Regions from separate parts of the Homo sapiens genome. Here all the other regions are reported to be linked to region 3. The links are microRNA targets in miRTarBase. Many come from high-throughput screens and were not tested one by one. Region 3 holds a microRNA gene; each other region holds the end of a gene's coding sequence.
Evidence for each region. Region 3 holds the annotated microRNA hsa-miR-3529-5p (AGGUAGACUGGGAUUUGUUGUU, at 1,672-1,693, opposite strand). A microRNA usually pairs through its seed, bases 2 to 8, with sites in the 3' UTR of a target mRNA and lowers its output. Matches are read on the target gene's strand: a 7mer-m8 pairs with bases 2 to 8, a 7mer-A1 pairs with bases 2 to 7 and ends in A, and an 8mer does both.

Region 1: the mRNA of ELMOD2 is a reported target of hsa-miR-3529-5p. Seed matches in the 3' UTR shown: 7mer-A1 at 785-791 and 7mer-m8 at 2,976-2,982.
Region 2: miRTarBase lists RIMOC1 as a target of hsa-miR-3529-5p. Seed matches in the 3' UTR shown: 8mer at 2,940-2,947 and 7mer-m8 at 2,804-2,810.

The regions. Positions count from the first base shown.
Region 1 is chr4:140,549,614-140,553,857 of GRCh38, forward strand. ELMOD2 (ELMO domain containing 2) reads left to right here. Exons shown (of 9, transcript NM_153702.4): 9 at 617-4,157. The coding sequence ends at 762. Among named protein-coding and RNA genes, the nearest start is that of UCP1, 17 kb to the right of the region's middle.
Region 2 is chr5:41,916,694-41,920,937 of GRCh38, reverse strand. RIMOC1 (RAB7A interacting MON1-CCZ1 complex subunit 1) reads right to left here. Exons shown (of 6, transcript NM_175921.6): 6 at 1-3,922. The coding sequence ends at 3,639. It also overlaps the pseudogene LOC100419715. Among named protein-coding and RNA genes, the nearest start is that of FBXO4, 6.5 kb to the left of the region's middle. RefSeq lists an enhancer at 2,432-2,591.
Region 3 is chr15:88,610,223-88,614,466 of GRCh38, forward strand. MIR3529 (microRNA 3529) reads right to left here and starts at 1,702; the gene lies at 1,625-1,702. MIR7-2 (microRNA 7-2) reads left to right here and starts at 1,603; the gene lies at 1,603-1,712. It also overlaps a transcript of AEN not described here. RefSeq lists an enhancer at 2,812-3,496.

The DNA.
Region 1 (4,244 bases), not on the chromosome of region 3:
TTGCATTTTTGTGCTTTGGAAGTTTCTCGGGAAACTTTTCTCAAGGTATCTTTTGAAAGTACTACATCTTTTTTTTTTTTTTTTTTTTTTTTTTTTTTGAGATAGGTTCTCAACCAAGCTGGAATGCAGTGGTACAATCACGGCTCACTGAAGCCCTGACCTCCTGGGCTCAAGTGATACCTTTACCTCAGCCTCCCAAGTAGCTGGGACAATAGGCGCATGCCACCATGCCTGGCTAATTTTTGTGTTTGTTGCAGAGATGGGGTTTCACCATGTTGCCCAGGCTGGTCTCTTAAGTCCTGGCCTCAAGCGATCTGCCCACCTAAGTCTCTGAAAGTGCTGAGAGTTCAGGTATGAGTCACTGCTCCCAGGTGAAAGTACTATATCTTTTAAACTTGAGGGACGTTGTTGATTTTTGAGACAAATAGTAAATATACACTAAATCGTTTATTAAGTCTTATTAAGTCCCTCAGGCTTCTAATAGTTTTGAGATTACTTTTGATTATTGTATTCTAATATGGAATTTAAAGGATGGTTATATACTTTGTAAAGATGAGACGGTTTGAATGTGATTTCAACATTGAGGATTAAATGTTTTGTTTTTCTTTAACTGCAGGTTATCTTGTCTATGAATTTGACAAGTTTTGGTTTGAAGAAGAACCAGAAAGCATTATGTATTTCAATTTGTATAGAGAGAAGTTTCATGAAAAGATTAAAGGACTTTTACTGGATTGTAATGTAGCACTTACTTTAAAAGTATAAATCATCCACTGTATCTTCTATTTCTACCACATTTTGCACATTCAACAGAATTTATATGTTGTAATAGGAATTATCTGATCAATTACACTCTTATATATAATTTCCTACAAAAATATTTCAGAAATTCTATTTAAGAAAGCTAGTGGACAATCAGTGTATGTTTACAATTGTTTATACACTGTTCTCCAAAGGTACCTTATCCTTCCAAAGATCCCCTCTGTAGAGTCATGCGAACTACAGTTTGGAACTTGGGACTTAGCCCGTTGGTGTAAAAGTATAAATCAGGTATTTGTATTAAATTGATTAAAATGTGTAAAATCAATTTTCGTTTTTATGTGTTATAGGGTCAAGTTGGTATCTTTTTCAAAGCTCTTTAAGATTTTTTTGGTTTTTAGTTTGGAAATGGCTGTTTTTAATTTTGTCTGATTTTTATTTCTAGGTTAATTAACAGCAAGTGTTTCTTTATGGTTTTCTTTGTTTGCATCTTAATTACATGTCATAACGTTGCTTCATTAGTAGCAAATAGAGCAGAGATACAGCAGAGAGAATAAAGAATTAGGGCCTCCTTTTGGGTTTCTGTGATTATTGAGCATAACTGATGAGAGAATGACAGTATTGGTGACTAGCTTTTTTGTTTTTAAATAACACACTTTAAAATGCCACAGTGTTATTTGAAAGCTTAAAGGCATTTTCTCATCTTCAGTATTTGCTTTTTATCAGTTGTAGAAAAGAACCTTAGTGTTTTCTTCTCTACCTATGTATGCTTATGAAACCGCTCTACCTACATATGAAACTTCTCTACCTATGTATGTTTACGAAAAGAGATGTATTTGCCAAGAAAATCTTGATTATATAAAAGACAAAAAGATTATAAAAGACAGTTTCTGTTTAAGTAAAACTGTCTTTGAAACTTAAGAAAGCTTAAGTTTTAAAAAAATCTCAGTTAAACATCATTGGTTTATTTGACTTACTGTTAACTCTTGCTTCTCTTTGACTCCATGGTGTTTTTAGATAACCATGTATGAACTTTATGTTAATGGTTTGTGGGATACTAAAATAGCTTGAAGATGACTTGATGACTGTGCATTTTATATAGTTTTATTCTCCTAAAATCTCAGGAGGGCAGCAAGTGCTGTCAACGATTATATAGTGATGAGATTTTTATGGGAATGATTTCTTCTTGGTGCGTTTTACACATTTGTACTGATAGCAAAACTAAAGTTTAAAGCAGCAAAGTTTAAGTTCTCCTTAAATCCTACAGAAACCAACCTTTTAAGGACATAATTTCATCTAAAACATGACGATATTTAGCACACCTTTTAATGTGGGTATATATCAAGTGTTTAAGGACTGGCTAGTATGTGATAGAGCAAGACCTGAGACTTTATAAGTATTTGCTCGTGTCTGTTGACAGACCTCTTTCTTTCAAACTTGTTAGAAGAGTGGTAAGACATATCCAATTGGAAAATAAGATGCAGTGTTGTATAGCACATACATTTAAAGTGCTTGCGTTAAAATTAGTTTCTCAATAAGATAAAATTATTTTAAAAATTTGGTTCACTTTATTACAATAGTGGCAATTTAGCTTTTCAGTATTACAGGAATTTAAAAATTGGTTTCTTGTAGGGGACATCTCAACTTTGGGAATATCTTCACTTAATTTTTAAAAAATATTTTCATGCTTTATTGTCCAGCTATACAATATGTCGCAAAATCCTGACAAGTTCATTGTATTAAGGTATTAACTATTACATGGAAAGCAATTCTGTTCATCTTTTGATGTTTGTGTTGAAAATGCTTATCTTTGTGTTTTGATCTTCCAACAGCTGAGAGCTTGAACTGATTTAAACATTTGTCAATATACTTAAGAATGCTTTAAGTAAAGAAGGGGAAAATTTTAAGTAAGTTTTTTCCCTTCTAGGAAGAAAAACTATGATGATGTTAAGAAAATGTCATTATAGAGCTTGCTCAATAATATGTTCTTTAAATCCACCTCCATTTGTACATTATAGGTATCATTCTGTTTTTGCTTAAAATAATCTGCAACCATTTCAGATAGTTTTACAGCAAATTGATCTAAAAGCCACTAATAAATTCTAGGGTTTGAGTCTAGAAGCCAAGCAAACTGTCACCAATGTCAGTTGTAAATTAGAATGCAACATGAGGCTTCAGACTCATGACAATGATATACATGAAAACAAAAATATAATTGTGTCTACCTTCCTACTTTCCCTTTTGACATATGTAGTTGGAATTTTACATAGTCTTAAAATCCATATTTAGAATCTTACCTGTTTCTATAATAATTAGTAAAATGCCAAAGTAGTGATAGAATATTGTGGCATTGAAGTAGCCGAAAAATTGTTAGTTTTAGCATCAAAAAAGTAAATAGATGTTGAAATGAATTTTTGTATGTGCCAGGTTGAAGAGAGTGTGCCAGTGACAGGAAGTAGTCTAAAAAATTAACAGTTATGGTTTTAATAGGATCTGAAAGACAATCTTTAAAGAAATGGGAGAAATTGGGGGTATCAGTGAACCTATACCAACCTCTCTTTGTACATAAATATGGTGATGTAGCTAGATATAAAAATCAGTGTCTTACTGGCACCATTTACAGTTTAGAAAACAATCTTTTTCTTAAAAATGCCCATCTGATTTCTATTTTTAGGAGCTACTTGGATTTGTATGTATTTTTTCTACGTGAAAATATATGTACTCTTCACTTTTGTTCCAGTACTATAATTGCTCATGCACTCTTTCTCCCCTTTGAGAACATTCAGTGAAATACAACTTCATCAAAGATTTGCTCAAAGGAGAAGAATCGCATGAGTGTGAAAAGTAGATGCTCGTAGCCAGAACAGAAAAGGTTACACATGATCATGGCACAGAAGATAGGAGGTTTGACTTGGTGGGCCATAATGTTTATTATCCTTTTTGAAATAACAGGGACCAGCAGCAGTTTTCTCAGGATAAATGCTCTACCCCACTTCTCTATGAACAGGTGTGGGGAGGCTTACTTTCCATTTTCATATTTATACACCTCTCTACAAAAGCAATTTTTAATGAAGGTTAGTGGAATTGTTAAAAATCTGAGAGGAATGATGACTGGAGGTGTTTGGGGTTTTTTTCTGTATTCATTTTTTAATGAGAAAAGTTTTAAATGTAGTACAGGTTAGACCCAACTACTACCTTACTATTATAGGACGATTCTATGTTTCTGTTAAAGTATTCAAGTAGCTTTCTCTGGGGGAAAAAGTACCACTTGGACACTTAAAGGAATTGGGATTTTTGTCTACTTTGGATAAGGCAGTTGACTTCTTAAGTAAAAGCAATAGTGTAAAATGTCATTTTGTTTGGAATGTTAAGTGAGCAAATAAAAAACATGTTGAAATTGTTGTAAGCCTTCCTGTTGATACTTCTTTTTTTCCATATTCCCTCATTTAGTCATTCATGCTCATTAAACATTTTTCTTATTTTTCTTA
Region 2 (4,244 bases), not on the chromosome of region 3:
GAGTTTTGGTAACCATGAGAGAATTCAAACCGAAGAGAAACCCCAAGTGTAAAAAATGCAACAAGGCCTTTAGGTATCACTCAACCATTAGCAAAATCCATAGGGGAGAGAAACCTTTTATGTGTAGCTGAAATGATAAAGTCTTAAGTAGTGACCCATTCCTTAATTCAATATCAGAACTTCTGTAAGAAAGAAACTTTATCAATGTGCGGAATACGCAAGGTATATAACCAAAGGAGAGAAATTTGAAGACACAAATGCTAAAGCAGTAGACAGTTCCCAACCACCCCTAAATATGATGGCATCCCACCCCTCTCCCTATCACACTAGCCCCTTACCCTCATTTATTCTTCTTCATGGTACTCATCACTTGACACTCTCTATACATTTATTACTTAAAATGCTTGTCTAACTTCCTCCACTAGAATATAAGCTCTGAAACAGGAGGGGGTTTTAAAAAGCTATATCCTCAGGGTCTAGGATAAAATCTGGCATATGGTAGGCATACAATAGTTGAGTGAATTTAGTGTAGTACTTTCCTTATGTGGGGTATTTGGTACCTTGAGGTTACTTCATTCTAAGTGAATGATTTAGCAGGCTTTAACATATATAAAAATGTGTTCATTATTCTATAATACACCAGAGTAAAAAGCATTTTAACTGCCATGGTCTACAAATTATTCTCCAACTGTGTGGGGGATGGAAAGTTGTATAAAAAGCACCCAGTACTACCCTCATAATTGTACCAACCAGTGAGACCAAGTGGTCTACCAGGGTCACGAAGGTAAAATGAAGTTTCCAACTTCTTAAGAGAAAGTTCTCTTTTCTCAGGTTCAGAATCTAAACACTTTACTCCTCTCAGGATGGCATATATCCCTATATGCCTTGTCAGCCACTGGTATAGAGGGCATAGCAGTTTGGAATCCAATAGCAACAACTTTTTGTGCAAAGTTTGGCATTTAGAATCATGCCTCATTAATTCAAAAACATTACTAAGGGCCTACCATGCATTAAGCACTATGTATACAGGTAAATTTTTAAAATATGGAGTTTACCAACAATAAAGAAAATAATTACAAAGCAGTGTGATCAGTGCGACAACATGGGAGGGGAAGAGTAAAGGACCAGAACAAAGGAGCATCTAATTTGACTGAAAAGGGCTTTAAAAAGCCTATGAAAACAGAATCACTGAAGCTGAGTCCTAAGAGGTAGGTAGGTATTCACTTGGTCACAAAGAAGGATGCAGAAGTAATGATGTGTGCAAGGCTACTGAGGTGGAAAACACACAAAGCGCATTTAGGGAAGAAGTGGAAGTACTTGCAATTGATCAGGATGCTCTAAAAAGAGGGATAGTCTGTGGTTCTAAAAACCGTATTAAAAATAATTTAAATCTTTATACTTAGAAAGCACAAAGGTATTTTCATAAGAAAACTTGCTAAAATGCTAAGTTAAATAAAAATCTTAGCTGTGTAATGATAAACAAGGGGGCTGGGGCAGGAACTGAGAAATTCCCTTTGCCACAGAGGCTCTATATCAGAATTTGTATGTTTACCAAAAGCAGCCTGGATTTTAACTGTTTGAGCAACACTGGACTAGAACATGATTACACAGGATGACTGCAGAGACATGGCTGGGAAGGTAGTCATTCTGTGTTGCCCTGATCTGCGGAAAATCCCAAAAAGAGAAAACTTACAAAGCAGAAAGGATTTTATATAACAGATGAGGACTTGACGTTTGGAAACACTGAGCTTAAAATTACTGTGGGATGTCTAATGAAGATATTTGATAGACAGTTAGAAACAAGGTTTAGAAAGCAAGAGATAAGTCAGGATACAAGTTACAGGTTTGAGACTCAGTCTGTTATTACAGGTGGTAAAAGAAGCCATAGTTATGAATGACATTGTATAAAATATGTAAAGTAAAAAAAAAAAAGAGAGAGAGAGAAAAAAATATAGTGAAGATCAATACCTAAAAGGTAGGCAGAAAGTGAGACAACACTTTGTGGGGAAATGAGAGAGACAGCGAAGATGAAACCAACATGTAGCACAGAGTCGCCTTTGATAGGAAGCAGGCAACCTCTTTTCCTCTAAAATGGGAAAATGAGTAAAGTTGGTAAATACAAGTTGACCTCTTCATAGTCTCAATTTTCTGTTCAATAGGAGAAAGAGCCATATGCTAGGGGAGGGGCAGAGGGCCTAAGGAAAGTAATGAAGTTTGGCTCAGCCACAGCGGGAAATGGGAGAGAGGCCACCCTAGTAACAAACATAAGGTTTACATTGAGGGCTTTTCTAAGGCTGAAGTGAGACACTTGTAGTGATTCTACTTTGAAGGACTACCCATCACAAAGAACTCAGCATCCCCGAAAAGGTAGATAATAAATAGGATTAATCTGAGGTTGAGGGCTTGCCAAAGGACTAGACTAAAAGACCAGGGAAAGAAGAATAACTGGTGAGATTAGTTCATATAGTATCCCATAAAGCTGAGGGTGGATAGGGAAGAAAGCCTGAAAGGGGCTGACAGTTTAGGAGGAAGGGGAGCAGTCAAGAAAAGGGGGTAAGAAGGAACTGAAGAATGTGGAATGAGCATAAAGGAGAGAAAAGTCAATAAAATAAGGAAGTGAAAAAACTGAAAAGAGGGCAGTTATCAGTTACTGAAATTTTACCAGAAAGAGAAACTCAAGGTGGTGACATTCAAAGTGCGGCCACGGGAGTAAGCTGCTGGAATGTAATAAAGTCACTGGGCAGAAGTCCAAGGTATCAGCAAGGTATCAGAAAGATCATCCAAAGATGACAACAGGAGTTGAGGTAGACAGAAAGACCATGAGCAAGATATCAAGTTAGGCTCTCTGGCCTTTAACACTCACCCCTATTATTAAAGGCAAAAAACATTAAAATTTCAGTATGTTATGAAAAGATGTGCTACAAAAACATATGAACTAATGGTAGACTAACCTAGCTTGGTTTTTATCTTCATTACTCACTTGAAAAGCCATGCATTGTCTTTTAAACAAAATAGAAAAATAATTTTTAAATTTTTATAAAATGCCTAAGGGAAGTAGAAATTTTAAATACAATTAGTAATACATGGCAAAATAATTAAACACAATGATTCCTTTGTGAGATCTTTCATTATTTACCTTATTGAAAATGGAATCTGAATATTAGTCATAATCTTTCATTTTGCCTACATTTATATCCATAGTATGTATTCAAAGCAGTGAAGTAACTTGACTTTAATTTCTGAAGCATGGCAAACTTCAAGGTAGTGAGATTTAAAAATAATCTAAAGATGATAAAAATGGTAAACTTGTGTTACATATACCACAATAAAAAAAAAAAGTAATAGAAAAAATCTTTGTAAAGCTAAATTGGGTTACTACTCATTATTAGTGACATAACATCTGTATTTTAAGGTGAGTTTGAACAACACTTTAGAAATTAAAGAATCATCCCTTCATAGGTTTACTAATATATAATGAAAAAGATGGTGATGTTGTTTTAGTAGGGTACCCAAGCTGGATATCTTTATGCAGTGTAATGTTCTCATATTCAGTATCAACAGGTCTTCTTTTTTGGAACTCTCTTTTCCATTTCATGGGTTTTGTTGTTTTTCTATTTGAAAAGGACTAGATGAACTTACTAGTTACAGCGATGATGAAAGAAGTTTAAAATTTGTTTTGCATTCGTTGTATTCCATTCTTGTTCTTTCAGGGGTCCTTCACACACAGATACATACTTTTTCAAGATTTTTTCTCCTACTTCTCGGAAATCCAAGGGTTCCTTGTATGTAGTGCAGCCCGCTCCAGACACACTAGTATCCACTTCATGATTTTCTGGTTGCTGATCAGCACAATACTTCGATCCCCAGTAACACATTTCTCCACTGTACATCATAGCCAGCAGATGAATGTCACTAAATATTCCTGGGAAAGTCATTTAGGTTGACAGATTAGAATTAAAAGCTTAAAAAGAAACCGTAGTTATTAACTAAACTCTAATTAAAGTTCCTTTTGTCATTAAGCATTTTCTATTCTCACTTTAACAGTAACACAAAAGCCAAATATGACTAACACAATCTTCATTTAATTAGCATTTTTTAATATCGATTTTACTGATAAAGGAGGCCCATTACAAAAAGAAAAACAGAGTACCAGAGAATTTTTTTAGAGAACCATTTAGGTGTTTTTGACCTTTTTGGGGTCCACTCTATAACTTCTTTGAGAATCTAATTTAAGGAATAGAACT
Region 3 (4,244 bases):
GGTACCCTCAGGTCCTTGTCTCTAAAACAATTCAAGGTTGAAGGACTAACCCTCCTCTCAACAGTGGCAAAGAGGCACGGGGCTATTTTTTTTTTTTTTTTGTAAAAGAAATTAAAGACCACACATCCATCTCTGTTTCTTGATAGATTAAAGGATGGGGAAAGGAGGTCTCAGTTTTCTACAGCTGGGAATTTCAGAGCCAGCACCTCACTGCGGGGTAGACTGAAGAGGGTCATAAAGAGCCTCTGGGGGAGGAACACCTCTCCCTTACATCTTCCACAAAAGAACTTCTTGGTTTTTCTCAGACCCATGGCAGAGATGTGCCCTGTCTCAGGCTGACAGCTGGAAGGGGCTGGGACTCAGAGCTAGGTATTGCCAGTCTTCTCCATGACTCCCCCCACTCCTCCTGCTCCTGAGCGTCTCCATCACCAGGCAAGCCCCCACCCCCATTCTGGATAGAGAGAATAAACCCAAGGATGGAAGGGTGGGCTAAAGAGGAAGTGCTCACAATTAAAAAGAGAAAGAATTAAAAGCAGCACCAATAGGGAAGGGTAATTATCCTTCAGTTGCTGCAGAAATACAATTAGGGCCATGCTCTCTGAGCCGCCAGGATATTGTGGCTTTTGCTAATTAAGGAGCGGATGTGTCCTGCCAGCGCAATTAGAGGCTGGCCCAGGCAGCAGGGGCTTTGCCTCTCCTCCACCAGTGCCACACTGCAAGGGAAATTAACCAGGGAGCCCAGCGCTGTGCCTGCAGGGAGGGGATGACTGGGCCAGGATTCCACCAGCCTCCTGTCCACAACCATTTCCCCTTTTCCTCTTCCTGCTCTGCTTACCCCAGCACCACCACTCTGACTTCATTCTGAAGCTTCCAGGGCTCAGTAACCACAGGAAGAATTTTCACCATGGGCCATGCCCATAGGCTTCCAGAAGGGGGAGGCACCAGTAGAGAGGGGTCACCATTTCCAAGCTCTAGTTTCTCTTCTGCATGGTGGTTCAATGCTTTATGATTAGTAAAGGAAAGAGAGAAATGAGCCACTTGCCTGCTTCTCTTTAAAAATAATTCCCCTGTTTGTAAAGGAAATATGCTCAAATTGGGTGCAGTGGCTCACGTCTATAATCCCAGCACTTTGAGAGGCTGAGGCAGGAGGATCACTTGAGCCCAGGAGTTCAAGACCAGCCTGGGCAATATACTGAGACCTTGTCTTTACTAAAAAAAAAAAAAAAAAAAAAAAAATTAGCTGTAGTCTCAGCTACTAGGGAGGCTGAGGTGGAAGAATCACTTGAACACTCGAGTCTGGAAGGTTGAAGCTGGAGTGAGCTGTGATTGCACCACTGCACTACAGCCTGGGTGACAGAGCAAGACCCTGTCTCACCAAAACAAAACAAAACAACTGTGTCCATTATAGAAAGTAGAACACTCCAGAAAAAAGGGAAAAGTAAGAAAAAATAATTTCTCCAGGGAATTCTGAGGTGAGGAGAGGTGTTCAAAGATGAACTTAGTAATAGGAGCGGAGACAACGCCTCGCCTGAAGGAGCATCCAGACCGCTGACCTGGTGGCGAGGGGAGGGGGGTGGTCCTCGAACGCCTTGCAGAACTGGCCTGGATACAGAGTGGACCGGCTGGCCCCATCTGGAAGACTAGTGATTTTGTTGTTGTCTTACTGCGCTCAACAACAAATCCCAGTCTACCTAATGGTGCCAGCCATCGCAGCGGGGTGCAGGAAATGGGGGCAGCCCCCCTTTTTGGCTATCCTTCCACGTGTTCTTTTTTGTATCTTTTGTGTTTCCTAGAAAACATCTCAGGTCACCACCCTAAACACCCATCGGCAGACTCTTCCAGAAACATGGACAAACTATGGTGTGAGCAGGGAAGTGGGGCAGGGTCTCTGTTTTCAGGGAGCAGTGGACTGCTTCCATACCACTACCTGAAGGGCAGGGGGAGAAAAACCCTCCTTAATTACTAATTCCCCCAACAATCACTTTGGGGCACCTATAATGGAGGCACCTTGTGACTCCACATCCTGGGGCTCAGGGCCTCATTGTCTGTGGCCCGACAGCCACAGTGTATGCGGGCACCGAGAGGTATGCACTGGAGACCGAGGTTCCCGGATGTTCAGTGTACCTGGCAGCAGGGGGGACACACCTGACCTCGGAGCTTGTCTGGTGCCTGCTCCACAGCTGAGGGAGTGGACTTGTGTGTATGGAATTTCTTGGTCCCAGTACCTGCCTCTGTGCTGCTACATCCAGAGGTGTGGCCAAGGGAAAAAAGCCCAGTGCTTGGGGACCATCCCCCACTGTGGCAGGAATACAATTAGAATTAGTGATCAGAAAAAGCATTTCCCAGCCTTTTATTTATTTATTTATTTATTTATTTATTTATTTATTTATTTATTTTTGAGACAGAGTCTCACTCTGTCCCAGGCTGGAGTGCAGTGGTACAGTCCTGACTCACTGCAACCTCCACCTCCTGGGTTCAAGTGATTCTTGTGCCTCAGCCTCCCGACTAGCTGGGATTACAGGTGAATGCCACCAACTCAGCTAATTTTTTGTATTTTTGGTAGAGAGAGGGGTTTGCTATGTTGGTCAGGCTGGTCTCGAACTCGTGACGTCAGGGGATCTGCCCACCTCGGTCTCCCAAAGTGCTGGGAGTATAGGCATCAGCCACCTTGCCTGGCCTCCCAGCCTTTCTGCCTGGGATCCCTCTGCCTGGGGGGTACCTTGCCCTAAGGTGAGCACCAAGTTACAGTGATGACACTTTCAGTGGAGATTAATTTTCAAGCAACAAATCCAAATGCCCTCCCTATTCCTAAGTATATTCCCACCCTCCTCCATCCATACAGCAGAGGAGACTAAAGCATATTACAAACTAAAGTTGGGGGTTGGGGATCGTACTCATTTAGGGAATGCTAAAAATGCAACCATTAGCTGAGCTCATTCTACCTCTTCCGGTTGCTAGCTGTGTGACCTCTGGCAAGGCACTTGACCTCTCTGAACCAAGTCAGCCCTTCACTTCTACCCAGAGACTTTGGCTGCCTCTGCTTCTGCTGCTCCCTATCCTACAAACTGGCTCTCTTCTTCTGCACTTCCAGTCTTAAATTTCCCTTTACTCCTAACCCTGCCTGAAGCCAGTGGGAAGCCAGTCCTATTAGAAATCTCATTTACACTTCAGAAGTCTGCAAATTGGTGTCACTCAGCAGGTATCTGTCCTTCACAGCGGGAGAGAAGCCCAGATTGGGCAGGAAGGGCAGAGCTGGAGAACAGGAGAGGAGGGGAGTTGAGTCTCTCCTGGGCAGCCCTCAGCCTCTGGGGCTGGTTTGGAGATGGAACGGGGAGAGATTGTGTCTCAGTGAAACAAGCATCTCGGGGGGGGATGTGGGGTGCATTCCTGATTTGAGGGATGGATATGACAGCCTTTGTTAAGTGGTGGGGGGAGTCCTGGCTCTGAAGTCAAACATGTGCCAGTTTCAATCTTGGCTCCACTGCTTACGAGCTGTGTGACTTTGAGTCAGTCACTTAACATCTCTGAGTCTCAGATTCCTCAACTGTGAAACAGAATTGATCACATCTACCTTGCTAGGTTATTACGATAAGTAGGCAAGTGAAGTGTCATAATATAAAATAGCATGGGTATATACCCAATATTGGTCTCTTCTGCCTTTTCTTTCATAGTTTTCATGGTTGTCCTCTTCACCAGCCTTGTGCACCCACAAATCTGCCATCCTGAAATAGGAAAAAATGGAAACCACCATCTTTCTATTAGTCTCCCCTATCATGTAGGAATTTAATCCTATTTAAATATGTATCCTTCCCCTTCCAGATCAGTATCTTGCCCATTTCAGGGGACTCAATATATATTGAAAGAATGAATATAGACCAAGTCCCTCCCCACTTTAAAAATGCTGAAATCAGGGCCTGCAGAGGTTGTGACTTATCTCTTGGTCACTCAGCAAAATAGACAATTTACTACTGTTTTTATTTATTTATTTATTTATTGAAATGGGGTCTGGCTTTGTCACCCAGTCTAGAGTGCAGTGGTGTGATCTCGGCTCAATGCAACCCCAACCTCCTGGGCTCAAGCAATTCTCCTCCCTCAGCCTCCCGATCAGATGAGACTACAGACACCCACCACCACACCCTGGCTAATTACAGTATTTTTTGTAGAGACGGAGTCTCCCTGTGTTGCTCAGGCTGGTCTTAAACTCCTGGGCTCAGGTGATCCTACCACCTTGGCTTCCCCAAATG